4 linked regions of the Homo sapiens genome follow. The protein of the gene in region 4 interacts with the protein of the main gene of each other region in a pairwise test. Each region holds a gene or a part of one and is shown on either strand. Other genes may lie near its edges. The genes, in order: RINT1, TTC33, BRMS1L and TXLNA.

What was found.
Region 1: the proteins of TXLNA (region 4) and RINT1 interact in binary tests that used the Homo sapiens proteins (3 or more experiments, as listed by UniProt).
Region 2: the proteins of TXLNA (region 4) and TTC33 interact in binary tests that used the Homo sapiens proteins (3 or more experiments, as listed by UniProt).
Region 3: the proteins of TXLNA (region 4) and BRMS1L interact in binary tests that used the Homo sapiens proteins (3 or more experiments, as listed by UniProt).

What each region holds. Positions count from the first base shown.
Region 1 is NC_000007.14:105,528,006-105,536,082, reverse strand, and holds the start of RINT1 (RAD50-interacting protein 1), read right to left. Parts: upstream 3,883-8,077; 5' UTR 3,768-3,882; coding exon 3,726-3,767; intron 3,260-3,725; coding exon 3,214-3,259; intron 1-3,213. UniProt on the Homo sapiens protein: Involved in regulation of membrane traffic between the Golgi and the endoplasmic reticulum (ER); the function is proposed to depend on its association in the NRZ complex which is believed to play a role in SNARE assembly at the ER.
Region 2 is NC_000005.10:40,710,798-40,718,891, forward strand, and holds the end of TTC33 (tetratricopeptide repeat protein 33), read right to left. Parts: intron 5,702-8,094; coding exon 5,348-5,701; 3' UTR 779-5,347; downstream 1-778.
Region 3 is NC_000014.9:35,856,991-35,865,198, reverse strand, and holds part of BRMS1L (breast cancer metastasis-suppressor 1-like protein), read right to left. Parts: intron 2,610-8,208; coding exon 2,513-2,609; intron 1,330-2,512; coding exon 1,246-1,329; intron 265-1,245; coding exon 200-264; intron 1-199. UniProt on the Homo sapiens protein: Involved in the histone deacetylase (HDAC1)-dependent transcriptional repression activity. When overexpressed in lung cancer cell line that lacks p53/TP53 expression, inhibits cell growth.
Region 4 is NC_000001.11:32,189,228-32,197,435, reverse strand, and holds part of TXLNA (alpha-taxilin), read right to left. Parts: intron 7,382-8,208; coding exon 7,187-7,381; intron 5,126-7,186; coding exon 5,006-5,125; intron 4,780-5,005; coding exon 4,705-4,779; intron 4,229-4,704; coding exon 4,136-4,228; intron 3,372-4,135; coding exon 3,276-3,371; intron 2,535-3,275; coding exon 2,241-2,534; 3' UTR 1-2,240. UniProt on the Homo sapiens protein: May be involved in intracellular vesicle traffic and potentially in calcium-dependent exocytosis in neuroendocrine cells.

The sequences.
Region 1 (8,077 bases), on a different chromosome or scaffold from region 4:
AATTTAAAGAACAACACACACAGACAAATGCCCAGAAGAATAGCTCTAAAGCACTCTATCAAACAACTACTGCAAAATGCTTAAGAGCTGAGGGAAGTATTAAAGGAAAAATTCCTAAAGTGTGATCCAGTAACCACAGGTTTCAATAGACAAGGAATAATACCTTTTCAAAATGTGTAAGGAACCAGTAGTATGGTCTAGGGCAACACCAAAAGAAGACTCTTGTTTTAAAGTGTTTTTAAAAAGACCGGGCGCAGGGGCTCACACCTGTAATCCCAGCACTGTGGGAGGCCAAGGCAGGAGGATCACTTGAGCCCAGAAGTTCTAGACCAGCCTAGGCAACAAAGCAAGACTTCATCTAACAAAATTAGCCAGGAATGGTGGAACACACCTGTAGTCTCAGGTGGGCTGAGGTGGGAGGATTGCTTGAGCAGCCTGGGAGATGGAGGCTGCAGTGAGCCATGATCTCACTACTACATTCCAGCCTGGACAGCAGAGCAAGACCTCATCTCTTAAAAACAAACAAACAAACAAACAAAAAAGTAAAAAAGGTTTGGCTGGGCGAGGTGGCTCAGGCCTGTAATCTCAGCACTTTGGGAGGTTGAGGCAGGCAGATCACAAGGTCAGGAGTTCGAGACCAGCCTGGCCAATATGGTGAAAACCTGTCTCTACTAAAAATACAAAAATTAGCTGGGCATGGCGGTGCACGCTTATAGTCCCAGCTACTCGGGAGGCTGAGGCAGAAGAATCGCTTGAACCCGGGAGGCGGAGGTTGCAGTGAGCCGAGATCACGCCACTGCACTCCAGCCTGGGCAACAGAGTGAGACTCTGCCTCAAAAAAAAAAAAAAAAAAGGTTTTTAAGCTTCAAATGTCATCGATGTCATTGTACAAAGATATCTTTGTCAGAAACAGAAAAAAGAAAATATGAGAGAACAAATTACTAGGAAAAAATCAAAATGACAAATGCAACCACTAAATAGTATAAAGTGAGATTCTTTCCATGGCAAATAAACTACCTGTTTTGTGACATTTAATAAGTCCAATACACATTAGGCTTATTAATATTAATATCTAAATAATGATATGCCTAAGTGCAAAATGTAAATGTCAGATATTGGTCAACTATTTATGTAAAGATTAACAGAATATATACCAATGTTTTATACAGAGTATGTTCCTGTCTCCACCCCTACACCCCAACAAACAAAATTTCCTTTGTTCTACTTAACTTATATGAATTAAATTAAAAGATTTTTCACATGCTGTGAGAATCAGGAGGTGGTACTGACCTTTTCCCCCTTTCCTGTTCAGTGCAAGATCCAGAACCCAAGCTATACATTGTGCCTTCCCAGAGCAATTTTAAATTGACAATTTAGAGGGTAGGAGAGGCAATATTAACATAACACTATGCCTCAATTTTCCAACTAGAAAACAAATTGTAACATTTGCCCCAGCCTATATCTCAAGGTTATAAATGGGACTATATAATACAAATTATATATTAATTATACTATATAATTATATATAATATTAACGTATAATAATCTACTATTATGTACAGAACTCACAATGCCTTTTTTAAATCTTAAATAAAACAAGTGATTTGTGTGGTGTATCTGCAGATAAATGGAGGCAGGAAATGTTTTGTGAATGCTAAAGTTGCTGTATCTTAGGGAGGAAATTCTACCTTCATTTTTTAAAAAAAATTACACCCACTGAGCACAGTGGCTCATGCCTATAATCCCAGCACTTTGGAAGGCCGAGGACGGTGGATTGCCTGAGGTCAGGAGTTCAAGACCAGCCTAACCAAAATGGTGAAACCCTGCCTCTACTAAAAATACAAAAATTAGCCGGGTGTTTGGCGGGCACCAGTAATCCCAGCTACTGAGGAGGCCGAGGCAGGGGAATTACTTGAACTCAGAGGCGGAGCTTGCAGTAAGGCGAGATCGCGCCACTGCACTCCAGCCTGAGAGACAGAGTGAGACTAAGTCTCAAAAAAAAAAAAAATTACACCCTTGATGTGTAACCATTCAAATGTGGCATAGTACATTCTTAGTGAAATGACATTCTTCAAAATGACACACCGGTGGTTTGGGAGGTTTTTATGTGTCTCCTTTTCTATTTTTTGTAAAGAGCACTCCTAACTGCAAAGCAGTTTGAGCTGTGGAAAGAGGAACAAGGTCAAAGTCCTTGATATGATAGTCTACATCTATTATTTTATTAAAATGACAGCTCAGTAGGCATCAGACTACTTTCCAGGCATCTGAATGAGGCAAAGGTGGAAAATGGAAAGGGAAGGGTTTAACTGAGAGATACAAGGCACTCTGAAATCCTTCAAGAAAAAGGAGCTGAGATGTGGCAGTTATGACAGTCATGTGCTATGGACTGCTCAGAGCCTTCTTTCTGAGGCAGATTCTATCAGCCGCTAATGTTAAGGGCAAATCTTACTCCTAAGGGCCATGTGCTAATGTGGGCACCGTTTTTCTTACTGCTACACATTCCCAACTGTTTGCCACAGTCAAAAGAACCAAAAATCCCAATAGCAGAGCTATCACATGCTTTTCCCCTTCCTCTCCCAAAAAATGTCACTTCAAAGGTCCCTAAAGAGCCCTTGATTTGCAATAACCTGCCATCAAAGTAAAATGGCAAAAGTCCACAACCCTGACATATACTCCCGTACTAGGGAGGAAATGGTGGTACTGACCTTTTCCCCCTTTCCTGTCCAGTCCAAGATCCAGAACCCAAGTTATCCGTTGTGCTCTTGCCAGAGCAATTTTAAATTGCCAATTTACTGAAGGTGAACTAAACAACTGTCATTTGCCTCCTTTGAACCCAATTAGGGTGGTGGTCGTCTGTCCTAGATCATGGGCCCCTCCAAATTCCTGATGCTTAGTAAGTTGATGTTTCATTAAAATGACAGGCAGGCCCCAATTATTCTGAGTACTGTATGATAGGCAGACTTCCAGCGAAAACACTCTAGTCCCTGTACTAGGTATGGATCGGGAAGTGCTCTTCTCCAAAGCATCCCATATTTTACAATTTTAGAAAGACAAAAATATGTGTATCATGGTCATCAGTATTACCATATAAGCATATTGTGCAGAAAACGGTACTGCATCTAAAAGATAGGCAAAGAACCTTTCTATATTGCAGACCCTGGAAGGCTGAGTTTGGGCGGGAAGAAAAAGCTAAGGTGTTTGGAGCTGGCTTACTTTTCTCCTCGAGGTTCTTCCTTTCGTCACCACTTTCAGAGCAGCACTAGAAGAAGAACAGATGTGACAAGCACATTAAGATTAAAGTCGTGGATGGAAAGCATACGGGGCTCCCAAAGGGCACCCACTGGAGGCAAGAGAGGTTCCAGACGCTCTCCCACTTTCTGAGCGACCAGGGCCGTCCGAATCAGGTACCTCAAAGTGCCACTGTCCTGGTGCCACCGCCACCTTCCCAGGAGGTGTGTGTCACCTCCGCAGGACCTGGAGTTACCTTGCCTGCTCACTAGAGCCACCTCCCTAGAGAAATCTGTCATCTCACCAGGGCCGCCAAAGCCACTTCACGGGGACTACCGCCTCCTCTAGGAGGTCTTACAAGGGCCTCTAATCTAAGCCGCAGGAAGCACCTTCACAAGCTTACAGGGCCACCGCACCGGGACTATCTCCCCCGGGAGGTCTGTGCCACCTCAATGGGCCACCAATGTCCCCTCCCAGGGACGCCAGGGCCGTCTCACCGGGGCTGCAGGAGAGGCGCCGATCTCGCCGGCTGGTAGCATCTCGCCTCCGCGCGAGTCCTCGGCTCCATTCGCAGCCAGCGTGGCCTGTGGAGTCTGGCTAAGGCCAGCGACACACTCACTACCCAGCCTCGGAGGCCGTAGGACTGAGTGCCACAGCGACTTCCTCTCGATGTCTCACTGGTTTCTTCCTCTCAGCCCAGAGAGGCCCTGCCCGTGCAGCCGCCGGCCGTGCTCTGTTCCTCCCCCTCCTGACCGGAGGTCGGAACGGCCACTCAGGAAGCGGGCACCCTCCCCTATGGAGCTCCAGAGAAGGGATTCGCTCACTCCACCGCGGTAAAAGTCCCCTCCACTTTATTGAAGCTCTTAATGATGGAACTTTAAGATATCCCTCTCCCAACGCCTTAAATTCAATATGAATAATTTAAATTTATATTTTAGGCAATATCCAGATGTTCTGAGAGTGTGGGGGGCTTGTTGACTAGGAGCTTCGGTGCAGGGTTATTTGGTTCGAATATTTAGTTGGGGGTTTCCAATGAATGTCAGTATCTTTAGATATTTCTTTTAACGTTGGTCAGAGTCCCTAGAGATGAGCTTCTGATTTCCTGCCTAGAGGGTGTAGAGGTGGTTATAAGCGTTCTGGGAGCTGAATGAAGAGAACAGAGCATCTAACATGTGTTTCGCCCAAAACCCTGTCTTTTACCAGGGAGGAGGAAAGGGAGCTACCTAGCAGCAAGGGTTGTGTAGAGGACCTGTGGACTTGACAGCCTCTTAAACAAACTAACACGGAAGGAGTACCATAGAGACCATAACAAACAAGGGGGGGGGAAAGCAACCCTCAGAGGAAAAAGAAACCACACGGTGAGAAGAAAAATCAAATACATGTGCACAGAGATATATAATCGAGCTACAAATTACTATTGCAAGCATAAAACAAGGATGGCTGGGCGCTGTGGCTCACGCCTGTAATCCCAGCACTTTGGGAGGCCGAGGCAGGCAGATTACGAGGTCAGGAGATCGAGACCATCCTGGCTAACATGGTGAAACCCCGTCTCTACTAAAAATACAAAAAATTAGCCAGGCGTGGTGGTGGGCGCCTGTAGTCCCAGCTACTCAGGAGGCTGAGGCAGGAGAATGGCGTGAACCCGGGAGGTGGAGCGTGCAGTGAGCAGAGACCGCACCACTGCACTCTAGCCTGGACGACAGAGCAAGACTCCGTCTCATTTAAAAAAAAAAAAAAAAACAAGGATACTATTTTTTAAATTACCTATTATGGGAACATAATCGTATATATTTATAGTGTACATGTGTGTTTGTTTTTTTTTTGCTCAGGCTGGGGTGCAATGGCGTTATCTCTGCTCGCAGCAACCTCCGCCTCCCAGGTTCAAGCGATTCGCCTGCCTCAGCCTCCCAAGTAGCTGGGATTACAGGCATGCACCACCACGCCCGTCTAATTTTGTATTTTTAGTAGAGACGATGTTTCTCCATGTTAGTCAGGCTGGTCTCGAACTCCCGGCCTCGGGTGAACTGCCCGCCTTGGCGTACCAAAGTGCTGGGATTACAGGTGTGAGCCACTGCGCCCGGCCTTTTTTTCTGGGGCGGGGCGGGGGACGGGTAAAGAAATTTTAATGAGGATTCAAGGTTTGTAGGGAAGACACAGAGGACCGGCGCTCAGCCCCAGCCTCCTCACGTGTACATGGCTCCATGGAGGTTCTCCAGTCGGTTCTGCTGCTGCTGCTGTTTTCGAGCCTTATCTCGTCTGTGTTCCTCATAAGTGTAGTCATCAGTGGGCAGCTCATGGCGGCACAAGGGACAGGAATTTGTCTTGCTTAGCCAGGGCAGAATGCAACTGGAATGAAAAAGGTGTTGGGAAGCATCTCAATGGCAGTCTCCTCCTCAGATTCCAAAAGATACACGGGGCACTTGAGCTCAGCCTTGAGAGCCTCTGATGACTGTCCTGGAGAGGTTCTCAACCACAATCTTGGCAGCCGGTGGAGGCAGGTGGTGGTCCCAATCTACTACCAACCCCAAGTCTTCAAAGTCCATCCTATTCAAAAGTGACCTTACGAGCTCCAGCACCATGTTGGTTCGAGTCTCCTGCTTGAGGGTCCAACGGCTCACAGTCGTGTTCATCGATATAGGACGCCATGGCTGCCCAGCCGTCTGACATGTGATGTTTTGATACAGGTATACAATGTGTAACTATCAAATCCGAGTAACTGGGGTATTGATCATCTTGAGAATTTATCATTTCTTTGTGTTAGGAACAGTCCAATTCCACTCTTTTAGTTATTTTAAAATATGCAATAAATTATTAACTGTAGTCACTCTGTTTTATTGTTGTTGTTGTCGTCATTTGTTTTGGTTTTGGTTTTTTTGTTTGTTTTTTGAGACAAGTTCTCCCTCTGTTGCCCAGGCAGGAGTGCAGTGGTGCAGCCATAACCCACTGTAACCTCAAACTCCTGGGCTCAAGGGATCCACCCACCTCAGCCTCCTGAGTAGCTAGGACTATAGACTGGCACCACCATTCCTGGCTAACTTTTTTTTGTTGAGACAGTGACTCGCTATGTTGCCCAGGCTGGGCTCTACTCCTGAGCTCAAGCGATTCTCCTGTCTTGACCTCCCAAAGTGCTAGGATTACAGCCATGAGCCACTGCACCTGGCCCCTAACTGTATTTTTGGACCCATTAACCATCCCCAATTTATGCCTTCCTCCCTGCTACCCTTTCAGCCTTTGGTAACAATCATTCTACTCTCTATCTCCTTGAATTCAATTTGTTTAATGTTAAGCTCCCACATATGAGAGAAAAGGATACTATTTAAAAGGAGCATTGGCTGGGCACGGTGGCTCCTGCCTGTAATCTCAGCACTTTGGGAGGCTGAGGCAGAACAAATTGCCTGAGGTCAGGAGTTCAAGACCAGCCTGGCCAACATGGTGAAAGCCTGTCTCTACTAAAAGTACAAAAATTAGCCAGGCCTGGTGGTGGGAGCCTGTAATCCCAGCTACCCAGGAGGCTGAGGCAGGAGAATCTCTTGAACCCAGCAGGCAGAGGTTGCAGCGAGCCGAGATTACACCACTGCACTCCAGCTGGGCAACAAAGCAAAACTCTGTCTCAAACATAAATAATTAAATAGATAAATAAATGAATAATAAAAGGAGCACTCACTTGTAAATGGGGAGGGTAAAAATAAATAAAATAAGAAAAGCATTCAGAGATGAAAAAATATGACAGCAGAAATTAAAATTTCAAGAGTGGAAAGATAGGCCAAGTGCAGTGGCTCACGCCTGTAATCCCAACACTTTGGGAGGCCAAGGCACGTGGATCGCTTGAGGCCAGGAGTTCGAGACCAGCCTGGCCAACATGGTGAAACCTGGTCTCTACTAAAAATACAAAATATTAGCTGGCCATTGTGGCACGTGCACCTATAGTCCCTGCTGCTTAGTAGGCTGAGGAACAAGAATTGCTTGAACCCAGGAGGCTTTTAATTTCTGCTGTCATATTTTTTGTTCTCTGAATGCTCTTTTTATTTTATTTATTTATTTTTATCCTCCCCATTTTCACAAGTGAGTGCCCCTTTTATTATTTATTATTTGTTTGTTTGTTTCTTTGAGACAGAGTTTCGTTCTGTTGCCCAGGCTGGAGTGCAGTGGCACGATCTTGGCTCACTGCAACCTCCGCCTCTGGGGTTCAAGTGATTCTTCTGCCTCAGCCTCCCTAGTAGCCAGGATTACAGGTGCCCGCCATCATGCCCGCCTAATTTTTGTATTTTTAGTAGAGATGGGGTTTCATCACATTGGCCAGGCTGGTCTTGAACTCCTGACCTCAGGTGATCTGCCCACCTCAGCCTCCCAAAGTGCTGGGATTATAGGCATGAGCCACTGTGCCTGGCCTTTTCTTTGTTTTGTTTTGTTTTTTGCTTTTTTTTCCTAGAACATTTATCAACATTTATCTTCCCACACTTTGTTTGTTTGTTTTTATTTTGAGACGGGGTCTCACTCTGTCACCCAGGCCGGAGTTTATTGGCAAGATCTTAGCTCACTGCAACCTCTGCCTCCCAGGTTCAAGTGATTCTCCTGTCTCAGCCTCCCAAGTAGCTGGGACTACAGGTGTGCACCACCACACCTGGCTAATTTTTGTATTTTTAGTAGAGATGGGGTTTCACCATGTTGGCCAGTCTAGTCTCAAACTCCTGACCTCAAGTGATCTGCCCGCCTCAGCCTCCCAAATTGCTGGATTACAGTTGTGAGCCACCACGCCTGGCCAAAAACTGGAATTCTGTACTTAATTAGTGAACTATGAATCAAATGTGAGGTTAGAATAAAAATGTGGGGTTTTTTTTAACACTCTTGT
Region 2 (8,094 bases), on a different chromosome or scaffold from region 4:
ACCATCATTCTCAGCAAACTATCACAATGCCAAAAAACCAAACATCACATGTTCTCACTCATAGGTGGGAATTGAGCAATGAGAACACTTGGACACAGGGCAGGGAACATCACACACTGGGGCCTGTTGTGTGGTGGGGGGAAAGGGGAGAGATAGCATTAGGAGATATACCTAATGTAAATGATGAGTTAATGGGTGCAGCACAGCAACATGGTACATGTATACATATGTAACAAACCTGCACATTGTGCACATGTACCCTAGAACTTAATGTATAATAAAAATATGTATATATATATATAGAAAACAAACAAGCAAGCTGCAGATAGGAAGATAATATACACAATACTTACAGCTCATGAAGGACTTCTATCCAGTAGAAAGGAAAACTCTTACAACTCAATAAGAAGATGACTTAAATCAAAAATGGGCAAAATATTTGAAAAGTTACTTTCCAAAAAAGAGAAATGTCAGATAAGCCTATGAAAAGATGCTCAACATTATTAGGGAAATGCATATTAAAACCACAATGAAATACTACTACATATCCACTAAAGTGTCTAAAATTTAAAAGACTGACAATATCAATCATTGACAAGGATATGGAGAAACTGAAATTAATTTAATACATTGCTAGCAGAAATCCCAAATGGTACAGATAATTTGGAAAAGTTTGGCAGTTTCCTTTAAAGTTGTGCATAAACTGGTCATAAGACTCAGCAATTCCATCCCTAGGTATTTACATAAGAGAAATGAACACATATGTCCACACATAGAATTGTGATTTATATATATAGCAGCTTTATTCATAATAGATCAAAACTTGAAACAACCTAAATGTCCATCAATAGGTGAACAGCTAAACAAATTGTGGTATATCTATATACTAGAATACTATTCAGCAATAAAAAGGAACTTATTATTGATACACATGATAACATGGATGAATCTCAACATGGATGGGTTTCAAAAGCATCATGTTAAGCAAAAAAAAAGTCAGACACAAAAAGAGTGCATATTATATGGCCTATTTATTTCAAACTCTAGAATTCTGAAGTCAAATCTAACGTATAGCCACAGAAAGCAGAAAAGTAGTTGACTAGGGATGGCTGTTCAGGTGGAGGGGAACCAACTGCAAAAGGGCTTTAGAGAACTTTTTGGGTGATGGACACACACTATATCAGGATGGTAGTGGTGGTGAAGTGGGTGTTTACATTTGTCAAAACTCTCCCAACTATAACGTTAAAATACTTGCATTTTATTATTTCTAAGTTATACTCATTTAAGAAAGTTAATAGAGGTGAACAGAGGATATCCTAATTCATTTCACATTCTTCCCTTCCAATTCAATCTAGAGTCAACAATGTGGTCTGTCACAATTCCAACTCAGCAGACCTTTTAAATATCCTGAACAAATGTTTACCTGTTGCCTTGTAATTAACACTACTCAATTTCAATAGAATTTCCATTATTTAAAAAAAACCTCTAAAATTAGGAAAGAATTCCCACATGTGGTTTTTAATATATCTCATGCTTACTTCGAAATATAATCTGCACTAGTCTTTGTTAAAGTTTGAGGGAGTCATAAAATAATGTCCCTCTCCTCTCCTGACCTCTGAACCACTTGAGACACAGACAGATGGAGATTCAATATTTTAAGTTTACTGCTGAAAAAGGCTAGGTTAGAGGATGTACTTTAAGTTTATGCCAACAATAGCCACCAGATATTGAACTTAGAATTAGACAGACCTGCTTACTAAGGCATGGGCAGTTCTGCACAAGCACAAATCTCCCTTTGCAGAGGCAAAGAACTTTCACTGCAAGGTTCACAATGTAGCTGGCAAGAGACCACAACATCGGTTCTCTGCAGTTATGACAAATCCACAAAAGGGAAAAAAGAGGCTAGCATGCCCAGTTCTATATCTTAAACTCCCTCCTTTCCTGGTGAAGTGAGAGAAAGAGATTAGAATTCCTTGGTAAATGGATAGCCTAAGAAGCACTGTGAGAGGAAGCCATCCTTACCCGCCGCTGCCTTCTGACCAAAGTAGTTCATATATAGTGCACATTAGGGCATGATTCATGTTACAGTAGCTTTAGGGCCACACTTCTTCTTCCGAAGTAACCATATTTAATTGCAAGTGACTAAGGTAAATGACTTTAGGGATAACCTCCTTTATTTCATTTTATTTCTGTTTTATAATTTATATATTTCAATATCTTATTATTGGTAAGAAAAACTTAACTTTCTCAGTCCTAAAATTCTTTATTATCAAATACATCAGTTTAATAATAATCTCTAAGGAAGAAAAAAACACATTTAAGATATCCATTGATTTGAAGATAATTATTATGGAACTATGGTTCTTATGTCAACTCACAACTCATTTAGATATTAATACATGTATCATGAAATCATAGCTCAGAATTGCTGGTCCAGAGTCACTTTAGAATGGCTCTGATTCAAGGAAATTAAAAGAAATGATTGTTAATTTTCTTAGTGCTGGGAAAGGCAGTGAAACAAGCTTTTGAATCATTATGTAATTTTCAAACAACTAAAAGGGCTATACTGTTCAGTTATAATCTTAAAAATTCTAGCTGAGACAGAGCTTTTAAAAAATCTTTATAGTTTTACCATACGGCATCAATTCAAAAGATTGTCATACTGAAACCACTGCCATAAAATTTTGTATGTAGGCCCCAGTTGCAGTAGATCTGGCTCCTGTGAGCTATAACTTGCATGGCTTTTCAATGTTTATGTAGTGTCTGTTAATATATTTAAGATAAATACTCTATAACCAAACAGCCTGTTTTCTAGAGAATGATATATGATTCTTGTGTTATCAGGCATGGTCTGGATGTCTAGACACTCTGACTAATGAGTGTCTATGCCATACAATTCTCAAACAAGAATAATGTAAATTATAGTCAATATAACTTGAACAGTAAACAGTGTTATTTCAGAAAGTATATTAAACATCTATATCATTATCATGAACATCAATTCTCTTCAGATTCATAAAGATTTGTTATTAAAATTAACAAGCTTAGTCTATGTTTGTATATCAGTATTCACATCCTTGTAAAATAATGGGTGCATTTTTCTCTTCACGCATAGAAGAGTATGAGCTAAAATAAGCATTTTGAGGGGCCTGCAGAAATGAGCTGCCTTCCTTCTCCATAACTTACTGTTTCTTTTTCTCCTCTGTCTTATGTCTAAACTATTTTATGTCTTATATCTGGGTAAGAAAGAGACTAACTTGGCCTACCATGCCAGTACAGAGGAAACACTAGGTTCTTATAACAGGGCCTAGTGGCCACATGCATTCCATCCTGAGTCTTGCCTCTTTGGGACTTGAGCTATAGACCCTGTCAAGAAAAATCCCACTATCTCTCCTATAATACTGGAATCAGAGACTTCTTACTTTCAGATAAGGAAAGGATTACAAAAAAAGTTCTCCTTTTTTAAAATCAGAGGAAATTGAGGTTAAATATCTCCAAACTAACTCAAGTTCTTCATAGAAATAGCTAGCATTTACTGAAATAGCTGGCATTACTTCATGTGTGAGGCACCATGCAAGGTACTTTAAATATATTAAGTTCATATAAGAAAGACACTAAGTAGATCAATCTAATTTTTCAAAAGCTAACAACATAAAATAATAGGAAAATCTTCAAAATGCAGAAAAAAACTATTTATTCACAAATTACACAAAAAACAAACATCCATTACTCAAAACAATATACCAAATGTTGAGTACTCACTTCTCTAGATACCTATTTACGTTTTGAGAATGTTCTTTATTAAACAAAATAAAATAATTAACATATTTTTTGGAGCACTCTGAAACTAACCTCTCTAACCAGAGCTAATTTTCTGATGATATAACTTAAGGAAAGAATATTCTTTTCAAGGCAAGTGCTAATTTCTCCAACCCTGAAAAGAGATATGCATTCCAATAAAACAAAAGTTTTAAAAACCATCTTCATAAAAAATGTAGATCATTACTTATAAGCTCCAACAGTAGTAAGATCTTTAACATAAAGTGGGCTACTTTCATCTCTAACAAAGATAAAATTAATACACCAATAGTATCTTCCTGAGTGTCAGAAGTAACAGAACCCAACAGTTCTATATTATTGTACTACAATATATAGTATAAAAATAATAGTTCAGATTAGCAATGACAGTATTGGTTTGTGAATATGACTGTGGACTTTCAATAAAATTTTTTTTAATATAGCCTTTTCATACTCATGAGATTGTACTATAAATCACATTCCAATTTCTATGTATTTTGTGCTTAAGTTATTTATTCATTGGCACTCTAATAACAGCCCTACTTTTTTATTTTTAGAAAGATATAATTAGCTATTTAAAATTGTAATTATTTTTCATTTCACTGAGTAGTTTCAAAAAAAGTTATCTAGAAAAGTAATTCCCAGTCATCAAATGGAAAGACACAAGCAAGAAGTAAGTTGTTTCCAGGGTTTTTAAAGCTTTGTAAAATAAAGAAAAGAAAGTATTGGTTTTGACTGGGATAATATAGCAGTACAATTGTCATTAACCTATCTGTAAAAGCCATTCATTTAAAAATGCATATTTTAAAAATGACTCATTTGTGGTAAGGATTACTTACTGTAACAATTAAAAAATAAAACCATCATTCTCATATTTATCAATACTTTACACTTTTACCAAATACTGAAGGAGACAACTATCATTGTTACAACTTCAAAGTCAAAACAGAAACACAAATCAGAATTAAGAGAAACTTCAGAAAATGTTCAGAATGTACACATTTGTGTGCATTTTCAGCCAAACTTTCAAAGATTCCACATATAACCAAATGACAACTTTGAATCAAAATGAATGTCAAAAATATTCAAGCTTTCTGACAGACTTACTCTAATGAAGCAAGAAAAAGACAGCAAATATTAAGCGCAGTATATTTCTCAGAGGGAGGGAAATCACACACTTCCTTTATCATAAAACAAAAGTTGAGACAGCATTTCAGTAACATTGATCAAATTATTCACTATTCAAGAATACATTTTTCAAGTTTTGTCTTTAAAATGTATTCATTTACATATTCAGATTAAACTAAGTTTATTAATCAAAGACCATTTTACTCAGAATTTTAACCTTGAGAAATATAAATCATAACTTATCAAAGCATATTCCAAACACTATACAATAATCCTGCCATTTTAGTTTTTATATGCCTCATCTGAAAAACATATTTTACAACCAGGCGTTCTCCTATCTATCTCCAGAGTAAATGTCTCTATGTCAAAACTTCAAGAGGCAATCAAAAAGACAGATTCAAATAATCCTATGCATACTGCTTCATCGGGCTTTGATAAAAACAGAGCCATCTGGTGGTGTAGCACCATCCTCCTTTTCAGTTACAGTCTCTATGGCCCCAGAAGCAGACACAATAACCATTGTTTTATTTGCTGAAACTGTCTTCTCTTTCTCAGCAATAGCTGCACAAACAGCAACAATCTCATCACTTTCAAAGTCATAGTCTGGAATTGACTTTGGTGAAAAGTGTGTTACTTCAGCTGGTGCTTCACTTTTTTTAATCCTCTGTGCTACCTTCTGCTGCTCCTGGAGCGTTCTTGCCCAAGAGAGGTCTTCTTTCCATATTTCAGGGTTCATTGGATAGATGTGAAGGGCTACTTGAAAACTTCGAATTGCCTAGAAAATAAGGTCAGAGTTTTTTGTTTTGGTTTTAAAAATTAGTATGTTTAATACAATCCTGTGTGTTTACGTACATATATACTGTACACATACACATCCTAATGCATTATCTTAATGTACTAGAACACAAAAGATGGAAGCTACGGTGTTGCCCTAAACACTGGGGAAAAAAATTATAGAAGTGTGAAAGAAAGTGACTGACAATATGCTTATGGACTAAAAGCCATTAAAATGGGAGTACTCATAATAGGGCTAAAGATAAAGCAAATATATTCTCAGCTTCAGTAGACCAGTAAGTATGTACATTTGGGGATTTCCTGGGCTAACCCACAATCACAAAGGTACCAGGAGTGGATATCTTTGAAGTTAACAGTTTAGATCCTAACAATGTTAACATTTATTGACTGTTTACTACATTCTAGGCACTAAAGATTTACATGTATTTGGCTGGGCACGGTGGCTCATACCTGTAATCCCAGCACTTTGGGAGGCTGAGGTGGGCGGATCACCTGAGGTCAGGAGTTCAAGACCAGCCTGGCCAACACAGTGAAACCCTGTCTCTACTAAAAATACAAAAATTAGCCAGGCATGATGGCGGGTGCCTGTAATCCCAGCTACCCAGGAGGGTGAGGCAGGAGAATCGCTTGAACCCGGGAGACAGAGGTTGCAGTGAGTTGAGATCACGCCATTGCACTCCAGCCTGGGCAAAAAGAGCAAAACTCCATCTCAAAAAAAAAAAAAAAAAAGATTTACATGTATTAACTCATCTATCCTCACAATAATCATATGAAGTAGGTATGGTTATTGTTTTCAGTACTATTTTAGAGAAGCACAGAAAGAGTAGAAACCAAAGGTATCAGCTGGGAATTGGCAGAGCTGGGATGCAAATTCAGGCAGTCTGGCTTCAGAGTCCATTCTCTTATTCATTATATTATACTGCTTAGTCACAAGAACTCCACTACAGTCTGGATAAAGGTCAACCTCAGCACTACTGACATATTTGGCTGAGTAATTCTTTATTTTGGAAGGGCTGTCCTCTATAATGTAGAATATTCAGCAACATCCCTGACCTACACTCACTAAATCCAATACAGCTTCCTTTCCTAGTTGTGATAAACAAAAATGTCTCTAGACATGGCAAATGTTCTCTGGGGGTAAAACTGCCCTCCAAGTGAGAATCATTGGTCTAAATCTATTATATGTTGTTTTCTCTGAGTATACTTAGTCTCTGGATAGAAGATTCTCATGCAAACAGATTAGTTTTAAGATTGCACTTAATCGGCCAGGCACCATGGCTCACGCCTGTAATCCCAGCACTCTGGGAGGTCAAGGCAGGCGGATCACCTGAGGTCAGAAGTTCAAGACCAGCCTGGCCATGGTGAAAACCCGTCTCTACTAAAAATACAAAAAATTAGCCAGGTGTGGTGGTGCACGCCTGTAATCCCAGCTACTCGTGAGGCTGAGGCAGGAGAATCGCTTGAACTCGGGAGGCGGAGGTTGCAGTGAGCCAAGATCGCACAATTATGCTCCAGCCTGGGCAACAAGAGCGAAACTCCGTCTCAAAAAAAAAAAAGATTGCACATAATCTACAGATTTACAATCTAATAGGCCCTTTAGAGAAGTCATAAAGAAGACAGATACATGATGGCTCACGCCTGTAAATCCAACTCTTTGGGAGGCCGAGGCGAAAGCATGGATCACTCAAGACCAGGAGTTCAATGACAAAACCCCGTCTCTACTAAAGATACAAAAAAAATTAGTTGGACATAGTGGTGGTGCCTGTAATCCCAGCTACTTAGGAGGCTGAGGCAGGAAAATTGTTTGAACCCCGGAGGCAGAGGTTACAGTGAGCCAAGATGGTGCCACTGCACTCCAGCCTGGATGAGAGAGCAAGACTCTGTCTCAAAAAAAATAAATAAATAAAAAATACACAGAGATAGGTATATAAAGCAGTATTTGGCCAGGCGTGGTGGCTCACGCCTGTAATCCCATCACTCTGGCAGGCGGAGGTGGGCAGATCACAAGGTCAGGAGTTCAAGACCAGCCTGGCCAAAATGGTGAAACCCTGTCTCTACTAAAAATACAAAAATTAGCTGGGCATGGTGGCACCCTCCACGTGGTGGCTACTCAGGGGGCTGAGGCATGAGAATCGCTTGAACCCAGGAGGCAGAGGTTGCAGTGAGCCGAGATTGCACCACCGCACTTCAGCCTGGGCGACAGAGCAAGATTCCGTCTCGAAAAAAAAAAAAATTAGCTGGGTGTAGTGGTGTATGCCTGTAATCCCAGCTAATTTGGAGGCTGAGGCAGGAGAATCACTTGAACCCAAGAAGCAGAGGTTGCAGTGAGCCAAGATGGTACCACTGCACTCCAGCCTGAGCAACAGAGCGAGA
Region 3 (8,208 bases), on a different chromosome or scaffold from region 4:
AAACTGCTGACATGTCTCTAACTCTTAAAATATCCTTGTAGTTCACTGCTATCTGTAATAGTATTAAATTGCCTTAGAAAAATGTTGCAAAAGCAAAGCATATTTACAATAATATTTTGATGTACTAACAAAAAAAACATAGAATCTTAAAAAGTAGACTATAAAAACATACTTGTGTTCCACTGCTCATTAATCATACCTTCCTAATTGTTGTCCAGTCTTCAAGAATATCAAGATCTTGTAGCATATAAACTATATATGGACGTTGAATAGTCAAGGTCAATTTAGCTGTAAGAATATCACACTTTGAATTATATTTCCAAAGTACTACATTTCAGAAAATGGAACGATGATTTATGAGCATAATGCTTTGGCATCCTAAATTCTGACTTCAAATTATTCTTCAAACCACTTAGTACCAGCATAAATACAGTCTAGTACTTCTGATGTCATAACTACATGCCCTTAATTCCATGATATCATTGATTGTAATATACATCACTAACACAATCACTGGTTTTTAAGGTGGAGGGGAAAAGATGGGGGTAGAGGGATGGTACCATAGAGAATGCCGAAACTGAATATACGTATTAATTTACACTCCAATTTTGGAAACATTTAAAAATGTTTTTAAAAAGTATACGAGGCTAGGCACAGTGGCTCATGCCTGCAATCCTAGCACTTTGGGAGGCCAATGCAGGCTTAAGCCCAGGAGTTCAAGACCAGCCTGGGCAACACGGCAAAACCCCATCTCTACAAAAAATACAAAAATTAGCCAGGCGAGTGGCACGTGCCTGTAGTCCCAGCTACTTGGGAGGCTAAGGTGGGAGGATCACCTGAGCCCGAGAGGTTGAGGCTAAGGTGAGCCATGATTGTGCCACTGCACTCCAGCCTAGGTGGCACAGTGAGACCCTGTCTCAAAAAGAAAAAAAAAGTACACATGAGAATTAAACAATCATACTGTATACTAAACGACTGTTTCACATCAAAGCCCTTGGTGAACGACAAGTCACATTAATTTTCAAAGTTGAGATCATGATTGAATTTCTTCTCCTCTGCCACCTCTCCTGACCTAAAGTATACACTATATCCTCTGTCTTCAATCGGTTTTATAAATAAATCATCTTTTGCTTATTACAGGATCATGCAAATAAAGTCAGTGTTTACAAATAAAAGTTATAAAGGCATGCACAATGGAAAAACGCACATCAAGGAAAAAAAAACAGAAAATTTGGAAAAGGATATCTGAAACAACAACTGGCTTCTTTTTGTCAGGACTGAAAGGATCCTTCCTCTTTTTTCTTGACTGAAGCTCATCATTCCACAGCTCTGGCAGGTAAATAAAGATTAAGTATTAGTGGGTTTCTGGTGAACAAAGGAGGAAAAAAGACTCTAATTTTATGGTGGCTATTTAGTTACATGTAAAAACGTAAAAAACTTCATTGGCAGCTGGGTATATATAGATTAAGCTGTACATAATTTCATGAGCACTACGTGTTTAAGTTTTGCTCTGCCTTTATTAAAGCAAAAATCAATTTGGCACTTCATGACTAAGAACTGATTACCATATTGTCATGCACTTTGTAAAATGTATATTACATGCATTGTCTCACCTAATCCCCAAAGCTACCACTGAGGTAGGTATTCTTATTACTTTCCTTTTACAGACAAGGAGATTGATTTAGAAAAGTGAAGTAACTGTCCATGGTCACCAGACTAGTAGGTGAGGGAGCACTGGCACTAGAGCTCAGCTTATCTGACTCCACCATGCCTACCCTATAGAGAACTAAACTTTATAACAGATAAAGTAATATATACTCAAGAACTGTAGGATAACCTAGTAGACCTTCCACTCAATGCAAAAAACCTTTCTGTAACACCCTGAAAAAGCCAATTTCACACTGGACTGATCTAATCATTAATAAGTTATTCCTTTTTCTGAAACAAAAATCTACCTCCCTATAACTTCTATCAGTTTGTCCTACCTTGTATGATGTCAAAAAGGTTTTCATTCCTTCTTCCACATAACAGTCTTTCAAGACTTACAAGGAAAAACATATACTATAGCTAATTTCCAATACTATTCTTTTTTTTTTTGGAGACAAGATTGCCCAGTCTGGAGTGCAGTGGCGCCATCATGGCTCACTGCAATTGCAATCTCGAACTCCTGGGATCAAAGGATGCTTCCGCCTCAGTCTCCTGCATAGCTGGGACTGTAGATATAGATGTGCAGCACCACATCCAGCCCTGACACTATTCTGCCAGTAGGTTCCTGTCATACTTCTGTTTCGTCCCTTGTCGTGTGCTCCATTTTTTACATCTTTCTAAAGTGTGAATTCAAATAACAATAACAATATAATCACCATCACTTTAGAGTTCTTCCCCTTTTCTCCTTTGCTGGGACATTTCATTTACATAATATTAATATTAGAAGACTGAGATACGATATGACACTACAGTAAACCAAAGGTCTGGTGCCACTCAAACATCACAATCATATCATTCTCCTTACCTGAGGTAATATCAATGCTGTGCCTATCCTCTTCAAGCCTTCTTATCTTCTCCTCTAGTTCACTCTGGACTGTATCATATAGCAACAGCTTTTCGCTCTGGGGAGAAAAACAGATTATACTTAAGTAGAAAGAAAAAAATTGGTGTATCTTAACTAAGAGTACCAAATAACTTAAAGTACTTTAATATATGATGCTTTGGTTTGCTTTTTCAATTCAATTAAAAATTCTAAAGAAGAAATGTCAAATACATGAAAGAAATAAAACTAGAAAATATAGAATCTATATATAGATTTAACTACATGCAATTACATTCTGTATAAGAGCATCTAAATTATGTCTGATGTACATTTAGAGGTAAATATTTACTTTATAAAAAACTCATAGCAAACCCCTATGGCCCCTTTTAAATTTAAGTAGGTCCCATCTGTCACCATCATGGAAAACTTATCCTATAAAGTATATCATTATAAAATGGATCATATTTTCTCACAGGAATAATAATTGGGTCATTATGCCTCACTAATATCTCAGCATCATATTAAAATAGGCAAAGAGAAAGATTCAAGTACAAATTTTATGATTATTTAAAATAATTCAATTATAGTCTAAATTATAAAATTACAGACTAATCATATCCAAATCTTTCTACAAAACCATAGACAGATTGAATTGCTACAACATACAAGACTGGCAAATAGACTAGAACCCAGGTCTACTAGCTCTAGTCCATGTTTTTAATTATATAATACTGTAGCCCTAATTTAAAAAGCCATAAAATGTACATAATATATAAAGATCAATTACACAAAAAAACCTATGGCCACATGTTTACCTCTAGTGAAGGATATTAGATAATTGGATATAGCAGATATGACTGTCTTGCGGAAGCTATTGGGATATAGTTGGATATGACTACATGTAGAAAACACAGGCCACACCCATGTAGGCTGCATTCCTGGTGTCAATCATGAAGCCCTCTCTCTTGAGTCTGAAATTTAGAAATTATACATGCTTGAAGGGTTTCCTGAGTGTCAGGGAAAAGATGGCTTACAAACTTGAGGCAAGCCAGGTGCTAAGGAGAAAGCAAAGCTGAAAACTAAAACTAGATTTCATATCAAACATGGTTTCATTGCATGCTGTTCTCTCTGCTTACTTCCTTTTGCTTGTTCCCTTGCCTTTAGTAAAGTCTTATGAAATATTCCAGCTTTATCTATATTGTGCTGCAAAACTCGGAAAATATCAGAGAAAAAGGGAGAGCAGTTCCCCTCCACAAGACCGTGGTAGCAGCTATAAATAGATCCAATCTCCCCAACCAAAGATGACTCTAAATACAGAGCTGGAGTGATAAGCCTTTTGCTGTTAAGGATATGAACATTTAATTGGTGTATTCTCTTTTCTTCCTATTGACAAATTAGGCCAAGCAGAAATTCTTTTAAAAATCCACTAATCATTCTTTATTATTTTTTAAAAAGCCACAATGAAACTGAAATGTTTGAAGCATTGAAGGCATCTCTAAAAATATCAGAAGTATACTTTAAACTGCCATGAATCCATTCTCATTCTTATTTCTCTTTCTTTTTCTTGGAAAGTTCTCTCCCTTTTCTCCAGCTTCTCAAGACACTCAAAAACCTCCCCTGAATGGAAAATGAAGCCCTAATGGAACAGCTAGAAGATACCTGGAAAAGAAGGGGGCTAACTCTCTTGCTTTGGTGGCTGTGGAGTTTTCTATGTTCAATAGTTACTTTGGTTTTTAAAAAAATACTACTCATAAGTATAGGTTTGGTCTCAAGATCCCACATCCCTCTAGTCTTCACATCTAGACTTACTGATCCTGCTCACTAATAACCCCTTTCCCAGGCTGACGCCTATGCTGTTTCTCATCAGGAGAGCTTTAAAAAGCCCCAGGAAAGTGGCCCCAAGCTTCCATTATTGTACCGACCTCACACTGACCTGTATTCAGAACCAACTCCTCTTTGGCAGTTCCCTGACTTAACATACCTCACAATTCTCAACTTCTATCAGGACTGGAGCCCTGGAAGATTTTCATAGGCTATTATCAGAGAGTGACCCATTAAAACGCTACAATAGTTTTTTTTTTTTTTTTTTAAGCATACTGCACTGGAATAAAAAAAATGCAGAGTAGAATTTTAAAACTTAGAAACAGACTCTGGCTATGCGGAAATGACAAAGGTGACTTTTTAAATCATCTGGGAATCTGACAATAAATGACAAGAGAAAAATGAGTTTAGGCCAGCCACGGTGGCTCATGCCTGTAATCCTAGCACTTTGGGAGGCTGAGGCAGGTGGATCACTTGAGGTCAGGAGTTCAAAACCAGCCTGGCCAACATGGTGAAACCTCGTTGTCTACTCTACCAGAAATACAAAAAAATTATCCAGACATGGTGGTAGACACCTGTAATCCCAGCTACTCAGGAGGCTGAGGCACTAGAATCGCTTGAGCCCAGAAGGTGGAGGTTGCAGTAAGCCGAGATCATGCCACTACACTACAGCCTGGGTGACAGAGCAAGACTCTGTCTCAAAAAAAAAGAAAAATGATTTTAACTATATCCTGAATATTTTTTGCTTTACATTATACAATTTACATTACACATAAAAGTAAATGGACTAAAGGATTAAATTTATAAAATGAAAGCTAAAAGAAAATATTAAAGAAACAATATATAAGAAATTTCCCAGAACTGAAGATACGAATTTTTTTATTAAACAGTTCATCTGGTCAGGCACAATGGCACACACCTATATTCCAGCACTTTGGGATACGGAGGCAGGAGGATCACTTGAGCCCAGGAGTTTGAGACCAGCTTAGGCAACACAGTGAGACCCCATCTCTACAAAATATTTTTTAAAATTAGCTAAGCATGGCAGCGTGGGCCTGTAGTCCCAGCTACTCAGGCAACTGAGGCAGGAGGATTACTTGAGCCCAGGAGTTGGAGGCTGCAATGAGCTATGATTGCACCACTGTACTCAAGCCTGGGCAATAGAGCGAGACTCTGTCTCTTTAAAAAAAAATTCAAATAAATAAATACATAAAATCAAAAGTTCCTCTGGGTATCCAGCACAATGAACGAAAAAAGACCACATCAAAGCACATCATCTCACAATCCCACAATACCAAGACAAGAATAAAGAGAAGATCCTAAAAGTATTCAGGAAGAAAACAGGTCATGTACAAAGGATCAGGAATCAAAATGGTAAGAGACTTTACAAAAGCAACGCTGGAAGCTAGAAGATAATGGAACAATGCCTTCAAAATTCTGAGGAAACATGATTTCTATCTAGAATTCCATACTCTTAAGTGTGAGCGTCAAGATGTTTTCAGACAGGAAAGATGTGGTGGTTTTAAAACATGTCCAATAATCCTTTGATACTCCTAATTTCAAATGGTAGAGACTAATACTCTTTCTTGAATACGGGTAGGATGGGCCAGGCACGGTGGCTCACGCCTATACTCCCAGCACTTTGGGAGGCTGAGGCTGGCGGATCACTTGAGGTCACAAGTTCAAGACCAGCCTGGCCAACATGGTGAAACCCAGTCTCTACTACAAAAAAGGAAAAAATAAGCCGGGCGTGGTGCAGGAACCTGTAATCCCAGCTACTCGGCAGGCTGAGGCAGGAGAATCACTTGAACCCAAGAGGTGGAGGTTGCAGTGATCCGAGATTGCACCACTGCACTCCAGCCTGGGTGACTAAGCAAGGCTCCATCTCAAAAAAAAAAAAAAAATGGGTAAGATATAGCAACTGACTTCTAGTGAACAAAATCTGGCAGAAATCTAGGCCATAAAAACAGTCACCTCTGTCTTGCTATCTTGGATCACTAAGTCTGGAAGAACCTGGGTACCAGGTTATGAGGACACTCAATCAGCCTGTGGAGAGGCCCATGTTCTCACATGGGTTCTCTAAGGCTTCTCACCAAGAACCAGCAACAACTTGCCAGCCTGCGAGTGAGTCACCTTAGAAGCGGATCCTCCAGCCTCCAATCAAGCCTTGAGATGACTGCATCCCTGGCTGATATCTTCACTGCAACTTCTTGGGATTCCCTGAGCCAGAACCATCCAGCTAAGTTGCTCCCAAATTCCTGGCCACTGAGACTGCAAAATAATAAATGTTTATTGTTGTGTTAAGCCACTAAGTTTTGGAGTAATTAATTATAAAGCAATAGACAAGCAATACAAGAAATCTCAAAAAACTAACTTCTAGAAATCCTTTGTCAGGATGCTACTGAAAGATACACTCTACCAAACTTAAGGAGAAAATAAGATGCTAGCAGAGGAGAGGTGAAGGGGACATCCAGGTTGCTGGTAAAGAGATGCCCCAAGAAGACAGATGCAGCTGGCCTCCAAATGAAAGATGGAGCAGGAGGATAGGGGACACGAGGGATAGAGGGGTTGCTTCCAGGAGGGAGCCCTTCAGAAGAAAATGAGGCTGATGGATTATCTGATAAGTTTGATCGCAGAGAAAACAGCGTTAGGACTTCAGTGTCTGAAAGAAGCAAATATGAGGGGGTTTTCTAGGTCATTCTAGAAGTCATCAGAAGACACTGTTTACACCTAACTTTAAAACGAGAAGCAGTTTTGACCTTTACTGGACAGGAGTTTAAATCTTCATACAGTTGAAAACTTATGAGAGGTCCAGTGCTTTTTTTTTTTTTTTTACTTTTCTTGAGTCCATTAGGTAACATGCTCTTTATTTTGTGGAATACTCAGGCTTCATGAAAAATCAATACAACTGTACATGTTTAGCTTAATTAAAAAAAAAAACAGCATTAGGAGGCCCTCATAGATCTGCTAAGGTCTGTAGGAAGAATTGATAAACACAGAGAAAACTAACAAACAATAAATGAAGCAATTATTAATTCCAAAGTTTAAAAAAATACACAAGAAAAATTTTAAACATAATGTAACTCTTGACTCAGTAAACAATATTTATAATTTAAAACAAAAACTGTAACACAACAGTATTAGAAGAATGAAACAGAAAAATCCTCAGCTTCCATAATAGGAAACCAATAGATAATGTCTAAAACTGCTTTATTTAGAAATATGAGGGCCAGGCGCAGTGGCTCACACTTATAATTCCAGCACTTTGGGAGGCCAAAACAGGAGGATCACTTGAGGCCAGGGGTTCAAAACCAGCTGGGCAATATAGCAAGACCCCCATCTCTATAAAAAAATTTTTTTTTAAGAAAGGAATATGAGGGTAAATTCCAGAAGCAACTGATACACAAGTTAGAAATATAATTGCCACTGGGATACAGAATTTAAAAATAGGACAGAAGACTGCTGTTTTTCATTATAAATTATAAGGCTATGCCTTCAAAAATATATACACACATTACCTACTAACAACAAACATATATATATATACACACACACACACACACACATATATATGTATATATACATATATATATATATTTTTTTTTTTGAGACGGAGTCTTGCTCTGTCGCCCAGGCTGGAGTGCAGTGGCATGATCTCATCTCACTGCAACCTCCGTCTCCCAGGTTCAAGCAATTCTCCTGCCTCAGCCTCCCAAGTAGCTGGGATTACAGGCAAGTGTGACCACGCCCAGCTAATTTTTCTATTTTTGGTACAGACGGGGTTTCATCATATTGGCCAGGCTGGTCACAAACTCCTGACCTCAAGTGATCTGCCCGCCTTGGCCTCCCAAAGTGCT
Region 4 (8,208 bases):
GGAGCTGTGAGCAAAGGCTGCACCTTGCCTGGGGCCCACATTCCTGACCTGGGAAACCCAGCTGGGGCCACCTGCTCACTGTGGCCTCCTACACCACCACACTGGGATCCAGCAGCTCCAGTCCCTCCACAGGCATTAAGAGGTAGCTGAAGTGTGAGTCAGGCAATTATGTGGGCCACTGTAGGCCTTTCCCCTCTCTTCAAGGGGGAAGGTGCATACCTCTGCCTCTTCCCTGCACCTCTCTCGCCTAGCAAACACTCTGTGAGGTTGGCAGCTCTTGTACCAGCTTAGCCTGGCACAGGGGCTGGGGTAGGGAAAAGGCCCTACTGGAGCAGGAAGAGGCAAGGACTACTCCAGACAGAGGGATTCAAAGGGGAAGAAAAAGGTCATGGGAAACACTTCACAGGACAGCAGTATCTCAGCCAGAGATGGCAGAGATCTCAACACTCACACAGCTGCTTGAGGGCACCTAGATGTGAAGGATACACCAGAGAATAGCAGGCAACTCTGATGCAGATCAGTGGTACCTGCCCTGGGGCAGGAGAAGGAGAAATGGTGTGCCATTCATTTGCCATCTCTGGTCTCAGTCACACATGATTCAGTACTTAACATTCTTTGTGAACCAACTTATCTGAGAGATTTAAGGTAAGGGCTAAAAGAGTGGGCTAGGTATGGAAGATGAAGGGACCTGCAGGACAATGAACTAGCTTCAAAGAAAAACAGCAAGAAGCAAAGCCCTAACCATCCTATCCATCTTGGTCTGAGTCATTCTGTTGTCCCAGAAAACTGCTTGGCACAAACACTGGCTAATACCCTGGCAAGTTTGCAACAGCAGAACATTCAGCATATAGAATGGCTCTACACAGTACATAGTAGTTATGTACTGGAGTGGGGGTAGAACAGGACACAGAAACAACTGTCTGCAGCCATTTTATGGATTTCTGGGGCCCAGTCAATAGTTCAATTTCATTTCTTACCTGTTAGACAACAGCTATGGGCTCCCACACAGGAAGAAGTAGAATCCCCAAGGACAGGCAGGGAGGTGCCAGGAAATAGAATCAGGACAAATCTTGAGGATTGCACATGTGGGGGTGGGGGCAGGAAGCAGAAAAACCCATGAAGCCAAAGAGGCAGCTGGACATGGGACCCAGCAACTGCTGCATGGAGACAGTGCTGATGGGAACTGGTGGTGGCCTCTCAGGACTGAAACCCACAGGTAAGCTTGTGGCAAAGCCATCAGAAGCCCTTTCCTTTCTTTTACCACAAACAACCTGATCTCACCAAACAGGAAACCTCAGCATCAAGATGGCAAAGGAGCCAAGTGGGGTGGTGAAGGAGGTGGGACACTGGAGGCCAGGCACCCAGGCACCACTGCTACAGCATCCCTCTTCCTTGGAAGGTCCTCAATACAAACACTGTCATGTGCAAAAAAAAAAGAAAAAGAAAAAAAAAAAAAAAGAAAAAGAAATAAAGAAAAAAACACCTTCAGAAATAATCCTTTGGGTGATCTCTTGTCAATCATTTGTGCAGGCTAGAGAGGCACCTGTGAATGATAAGGCTACTGAGAAGCATCATTGGCCTGGTCCTGGCACTACCAAAGGGCAGGGGAAGCGATGCCCAAGGGGCTCCTGACCAGCACATCATCCCACGCAAAAACATTCTCCAGGTCCCTTGTTCCAGGCAGGAAATCCCCAGCTCTGAGCGCCCTGCCAGGGCTCTGCCTAGGGACACCTTTTCCAGGTCTAGAGAATCAAAGGAGCCTCCAGAGCAGCTAGGAGGGCCTGAGCTGACCAAGCAAGCCCTGCTCACAAGACAAATGCAGTCAAGACCTGGGTGTATTACTTGTCTTGAGCTCTGAAGGGCAGGGAGGGGTCTGAGCCTCAAATCAGACAGAGAAATGCTCAAGTCACTTCTGCCAACTCACTGTGATGGCAGCTACAGATGACAGCCCCTCTCAAGACTCTTCAGCTCACAGACAAGCCACTGACTTCATCTGTACACACCCCCATCCCCAATGCAAGCCCACTGTACACTTACAGGTATAAATGCATTTGCAAGGCCTTGCAAAATGCCCTATGTACGTAAAACTGACCCACAAAATCCAAAATTGCAAGTGCCAGATGCCAGCCAGGTCAGAACATCCTGGCTTCAGCAATGGGCTGCTCAGCATGGGAGCCTTTTATGGGCCAGGCCTGGCTGGGCTGCCGCTCCCTTCCCAGCATGACCCAACACCAGGCTCTCTAGGCCCTGGCGGAGGTGGGCTCTTGAGGCCCAGTCTGGCCTGATGCTTCTGTGCTCGGTGCTCCTGGGTAGCAAGGCGCTTCTGTGACCCTGGGGGAGCTGGGTGCTTGAGCCCCAGGCCCCTCTGGCCTCCTCTCAGGGCCACTGTCAGTGAGGGAGCCCTGGCCACCAGCACTCAGGTCCTGTACCCTCTTGTTCAGGTCATTGCGCTCTGTCTGCAGTGCCCGGCACAGCTTCTCCAGCCGTTGGATTTTTACCTGCAGGCCCTCCAGTTCTTTATCCCGGACTGTTTTCTAGGGAAAGAAATGAGACCTTCAGTGCCGTGCCCCATCAACCTCCCACTTACCATCACCACTTGGCGGCAAACACTTTAACAAGGCTGAGAGCAGACCGAGTCCAAAGCTGGCCCCCTCTAGGAAACAGTCCTAGTTGAAGCCATGACTAGGCTGTCAGGTGGGGCAGCATGGTGCAGAAAAGGGGCACGGCTTGGAGATAACGTATTCCTCCATTTATCTACCACGTGACCTTGGCAAAGGACTTGACTTTTGAGCCTGTCTCATCTATAAAACAGGACTACTAATACCATCCTCAGAGCTCAAGAGAAGGTTCAATGAACAACGTACCTAAAAACATTCAGCAGCAAAAAAGACAAAAAAAACCCAAAAACTTTCAGCAAGGTCTGGCTTGCAGTTGCTGCTCCATCGTTAGTTCCTTTCTTCTACATTACAAGCTGTGAAATCACAAACTACCTGGGCTGCTTTACATGTAAACCAGGCACATCACTGGCACCCGTTTTTTTCTGCTCTTTTATTCCTTTCTTCCATTTGCTCCCTTCACTCCCACTGGAGACCTACCACTGGGCTCACCACCTCCCATGGGGAGAGAACAGCATTAACTTTGGACTTGGACATTGTGTGCAAATCTCACCTCTACCTCATGCTAGCTGTGTCACTGATGGGTAGAACATACAGGAAAGGGCCTGATATGCGCTAAGTGCACACCCCCACCCTGGCTGCAGATCACAGACAGCCCACCTCCTCAGCCATCTCAAGCAGGGCCTTGTTGCTGCTCTCCCACCGGGACCGGTACATGGTGGTTTCTTTCTCCAGCTTCTTGATCTTCTTAGTCATCTAGGTTATGTGACAGACAGAAGGAAATGGTCAGAGCTGGCCTCTCCAAGGTCTGTGTCTCCAAGGTGGGGACTGCACCTGTGTCTCCAAGGTGGGGAATGATTGATCCCAAGGCGCAAGGCATTACAGGATGCAGTCAATGCCCTCTGTGCCACCTCACCACCAGGAAGTCAGAGGTGTCCACCACCAATAACAAGGAATGGTAAGGGGCCAGGCATGGTGGCTCACGCCTATAATCCCAGCACTTTGGGAGGCCAAGGCGGGCAGATCACTTGAGGCCAAGAGTTCGAGACCAGCCTGGCCAACATGGTGAAACCCCGTCTCTACTAAAAATACAAAAAAAAAAGAAAGAAAAAATTAGCCAGGCATGGTGGCACGCGCCTGTAATTCCAGCTAGTCAGGAGGCTGAGGCAGGAGAATCACTTGAACCCGGGGGGCAAAGGCTGCAATGAGCTGAGATCATGCCACTGCACTCCAGCCTGGGCAATAGGTGAGTCTCCATCTCAAACAACAACAACAACAACAACAACAACAACAAACCCCCCAAAAAAACCAAACAAACAGAAAAGACTGCCCCATTCCCTGGGACAACCTGGAGTGTATACATACCACTGATACTGCCTCAAGAGGGGAAAGGCTGTGAACCTTCCTAACAGCCCTGCCCTTGAGACACCCCAGATGGGAGCTTCCTGAAGGCAGGCCCAACAATTTTGAATGAAGCAGCTTATGCCCCAGCAGCCATGCCTGGCCTGGACCACAGTTACCTTTTCCATCTCCTGCTTGAATGTGGTGAATACCTCGCTGCTTTTGGAAAGTGTGTTCTGGAACTCCTCAAACTTCTCTGTGTATAGGGCAAGCTGTGGGGAGAAAGCAGCCCACAGATAAGACTGGGTTTCTCTGGGAGGCACTCTGGTCAACACACTCAGACCCGTCCTTGACTCTCTGACCAGTAATTCTATTGAGATACTATTTTTCCTTAAAACAAAGCAAAGCTATATATTTGGAAGGATATAATCCAAAATGCTAAGCCTGGAAAGTAGGAGACTTAGGGTGACTTTTATTTTGCCTTTATGTTGATTTTCAAACTCTTCTGTTCCTACCTCCTCAAAAGCAATACATTTCTGAGCTACAAATGAAGTCCTCTGAGCCCACCTAACTACCTGGTCACCACCACATAGGTACTGTGCAGGTCCGGAGAGAACAAAGGCTCAACCAAGGCGTCATAGCAGCCAGGACACAGCCAGTCCTAGAATGAGGGTCCCATTTCACTACCCCCAGGATGGGGCCCAGTGAGGGAAACTTGAAGGCACAGGGTCAGGTTATATGCTCTCACCTGTTGCTTCAGGTGGGTCTCTTGCTGCTTCATCAGCTCACACATCCTCTGGGACTCTACTGCCTCTTTCAGGAGCTATTTCCAAGACAGAACCCCAGATCCTGTCAGAAGCCCCCAGGGGCTATGTTTGGTTTTTAGCCACAAGCACCAGACCCACTGAGGCTTCCTGCTCTCAGACTGGTACTCAAGGAATCTGTGCCTGGTCTGGCCAGACTTCTCCCATATAACCCGGCTATGAGCTGAGCCAGAGCCCAGCCTGTCTCCTCCCACCCCCACCCCAACCCTGGGGCCTGAGCCTCACAAAATCCTTCTCCCGCTGGTGCCGCTCTTCTGCCTCCTTTAGCATCTCCTGGGCCTGCTGGAGCTTGGCATCCACCAGCTGCTGTTGTAGGTCCTTGTGTTTGAAGACTTTGTCGATATGCTGCAACAAAGATGGTGGGAGCAGTCGGCTTGTCAGGCGCTCCCTTTCTCAGGGTAGCCCCACAGCCACAGACCAGGGCACTTTGCCCAGCCCCCCATCTCAATCTGATATGATGGACTCCCATGTGTACCACACAACATGGGCCCCAAGTCTCTGGAAGGTCAGCTTTCCAACCTCACGTCGTTTCTCTCCCAGTGAGTCAGACCTTGGTAAGCACATGGTTTATGGATGGAATCTGCTCCCAAGAAGGCAAGCAATAAACACACTCAAATCTCTGACCCCAGGATTGATCACCTATGGGGCTGGAAGCCCTCACTTCTGTGTCCCTGATTCTCTTGTAAATGGGAAGAATGGGCAAAAACAATGCCTCTAAGAACATAACAGCCTAGCTCAGTTGGCAAAGACTTGCCATATCTAGGCAAAGACTAGACATGTGCATCCCCAAGGAATGGCTGTCCTGCCTACTAGAGGAGCGCTGCAGACCTGTGTCAGGTGAGAGAGAAGGGATGGAGAGAAGGTGAAGGACTCAGGTGCTACTTCAAAGGTAAAATCAACTGGACTTGCTGAAATAAGGGAAAATAACTCCATTTTTTTGGATGGGGAAGGGAAGGTGCCTAGCAGGTAAGTCCAGTTTGGGTATGATGAGGGTGCCTGTGTCTGTCTGGGGAGGGCTGTAAATGCAAAGCAGCAGGGCCTGGTAGTCCTGCACCTCCTTCTCCACAGGTAGTACTAAGTCCTTTTTTGCCTTGGCGGGGAGAGAAAACGGGGGTATTCAGATTCTTGAAGTTCGTGTCTCACTGTAGTGGCCCAGGAAGCCTCTATGTCTCAGCGCTGAGGGATAAGAACCAAACCAACTCCCCTCAAACCAAACAAGCAGCTTTGTTCCCAGAGGATGAAGTATGGCAAGGAAAGGGGTGGGTCAGGGGAGCGCCCTCTAGGTCCTGCACACACGATCATCACTTTGGCCTATGAACCTAAGAGGGCAGATCTTCCCGGTCTCACCCACTGCCACACCCCAGGGGCTAGGAAAGGGCCTAATCCAGAGCAGGTCCTCTGCCAGCCCTGTAAGGGGGCTGCAGGTCTCCCTTCTCATGATGAGAACGCGCCCAGAACAGCCAGGTGACTGGCAGGGAAGATCCAAAGATTCAAGTGCCTGGGGTGGCAGCCAACGCAGTGACAAAGGGAGTGACATCCTGCTTTTTTTTTTTTTTTTTTTTGAGATGGAGTCTCGGTATATCACCCAGGCTAGAGTGCAGTAGCACAATCTTGGCTCATTGCAACCTCTGCCTCCTGGGTTCAAGCAATTCTCCTGCCTCAGCCTCCTGAGTAGCTGGGACTACAGCCGTGCACCACCACACCTGGCTAATTTTTTGTATTTTTAGTAGAGACAGGGTTTCACCATGTTGGCCAGGCTGGTCTTGAACTCCTGACCTCAGGTGATCCGCCCGCTTTGGCCTCCCAAAGTGTTGGGATTACAGGCATGAGCCACCACGCCCAGCCTGATAAATTCTGCCTTTTGAGTGGCAGGAGCAGCAAGGAATCAGTGGACACAGTCTCTGGAGTCCATCACTGATCACAGGTACACCCCTCCCCTGCAATTCCAAATTCTACAAAGTTCTGAAAATGGAAATTGTCATAAGCTGGCAGCCAGACTTGACCTGCATCATTGTAAGCCCATAATGTAGGTGAGTATTTGGAAGTTCTACTGCATAAATACATTAATGTGTCTGGCTTCCCCAAGGCCCTGCTGAGGGTGCTATATAACACACAGTCCATACATGTACCTCCATTCTAAAATGTGGATAGTTCTAATTCCAAAAGATGCCTGGCCCAGTCATTTGGGACAAGGCACTGTGGACCTGGGGCTGTGTGGCTGTAAGTGAGTCTCTTCTCCACACCTGTTTTTTATCTATGAGGAATAACATTACTCTCCTCCCAAGGAGGAGGAGGAGGAAGAAAGGGAGAATGGGATGAAGCCTGAAAAGGTACTGTCCCAGTGCCTAGCACACACTCAAAACCTCACAATTTCTGGGCCATGACTGCTGTCCGTGATACCCTTACCTCCTCGCGCAGCTCATACTGCTCAATCAGCTTCTTGAGCCTCTCAGCCAGCTCCATGTTCTCTTGGCGCAGCTTGGAGTTGCGCTCATTGTGCTGTTCCATCTGCAGCTGAATGTCATTCAGTGTCACCTGGAAGTGCGAGGTCACCTCCTTGCGCTTCTCCTCCTCCTCCCGGGCCCGCTGCACACCTTCTTCCTGGGCAAAGAAGTCAGCCCGAGAGCCATCATCCACTGCTACCTCACAAGGGTCCCCCAGCTAGTCCACAGATGGTCTCTGCCAACAGCCCTCCCTGCTCCCAAAGCGTGGAGTAGCCAGACTCCAGGATGTTGTGCAATGCGGGTTCCAATGGGCCCCTCTGTATATCAGGTGACATCAAGTGAGATTCTCCCCCTAGAAAAATGCAGGCACATGGCAGGCGCGGTGGCTCACGCCTGTAATCCCAGCACTTTGGGAGGCTGAGGTGGGCGGATCACGAGGTCAGGAGTTTGAGACCAGCCTGGCCAATATGGTGAAACCCCGTTTCTACTAAAATACAAAAATTAGCCGGCGTGATGGTGTGCACCTGTGGTCCCAGCTGCTTGGGAGGCTGAGGCAGAGGAGTCATTTGAACCTGGGAGGCGGAGGTTGTGGTGAGCTATGATCGCGCCACTGCACTCCAGCCTGGGCGATGGGCCACAGAGCAAGACTCCGTCCCCAAAAAAAAAAAAAGGAAGAAAAAATGCAGGCACACATGCACACATGTAAGTGCTAAGTGCCATTCTGAAGCAAGTCGGATCTCCTAAGGCCTATTCTTCCAGATTTCAGATTAATGTGCATTTGTCCCCTCTGTACCCCCAGAGACCAAGCTGTTAAAATTTAGTAACACCCAGGGTTTGCAAAGTTGTGCAGAATTAGGCACTCAACACTTTTGATGGGGAAGGCACACTGCCCCCTCACTGGAAGGCAATCCAGCAAAATCTATTAAAATGAAAAATCTGCATATACTGTGACCTAGCCATTTCAATTCCATGACTTATCCTACA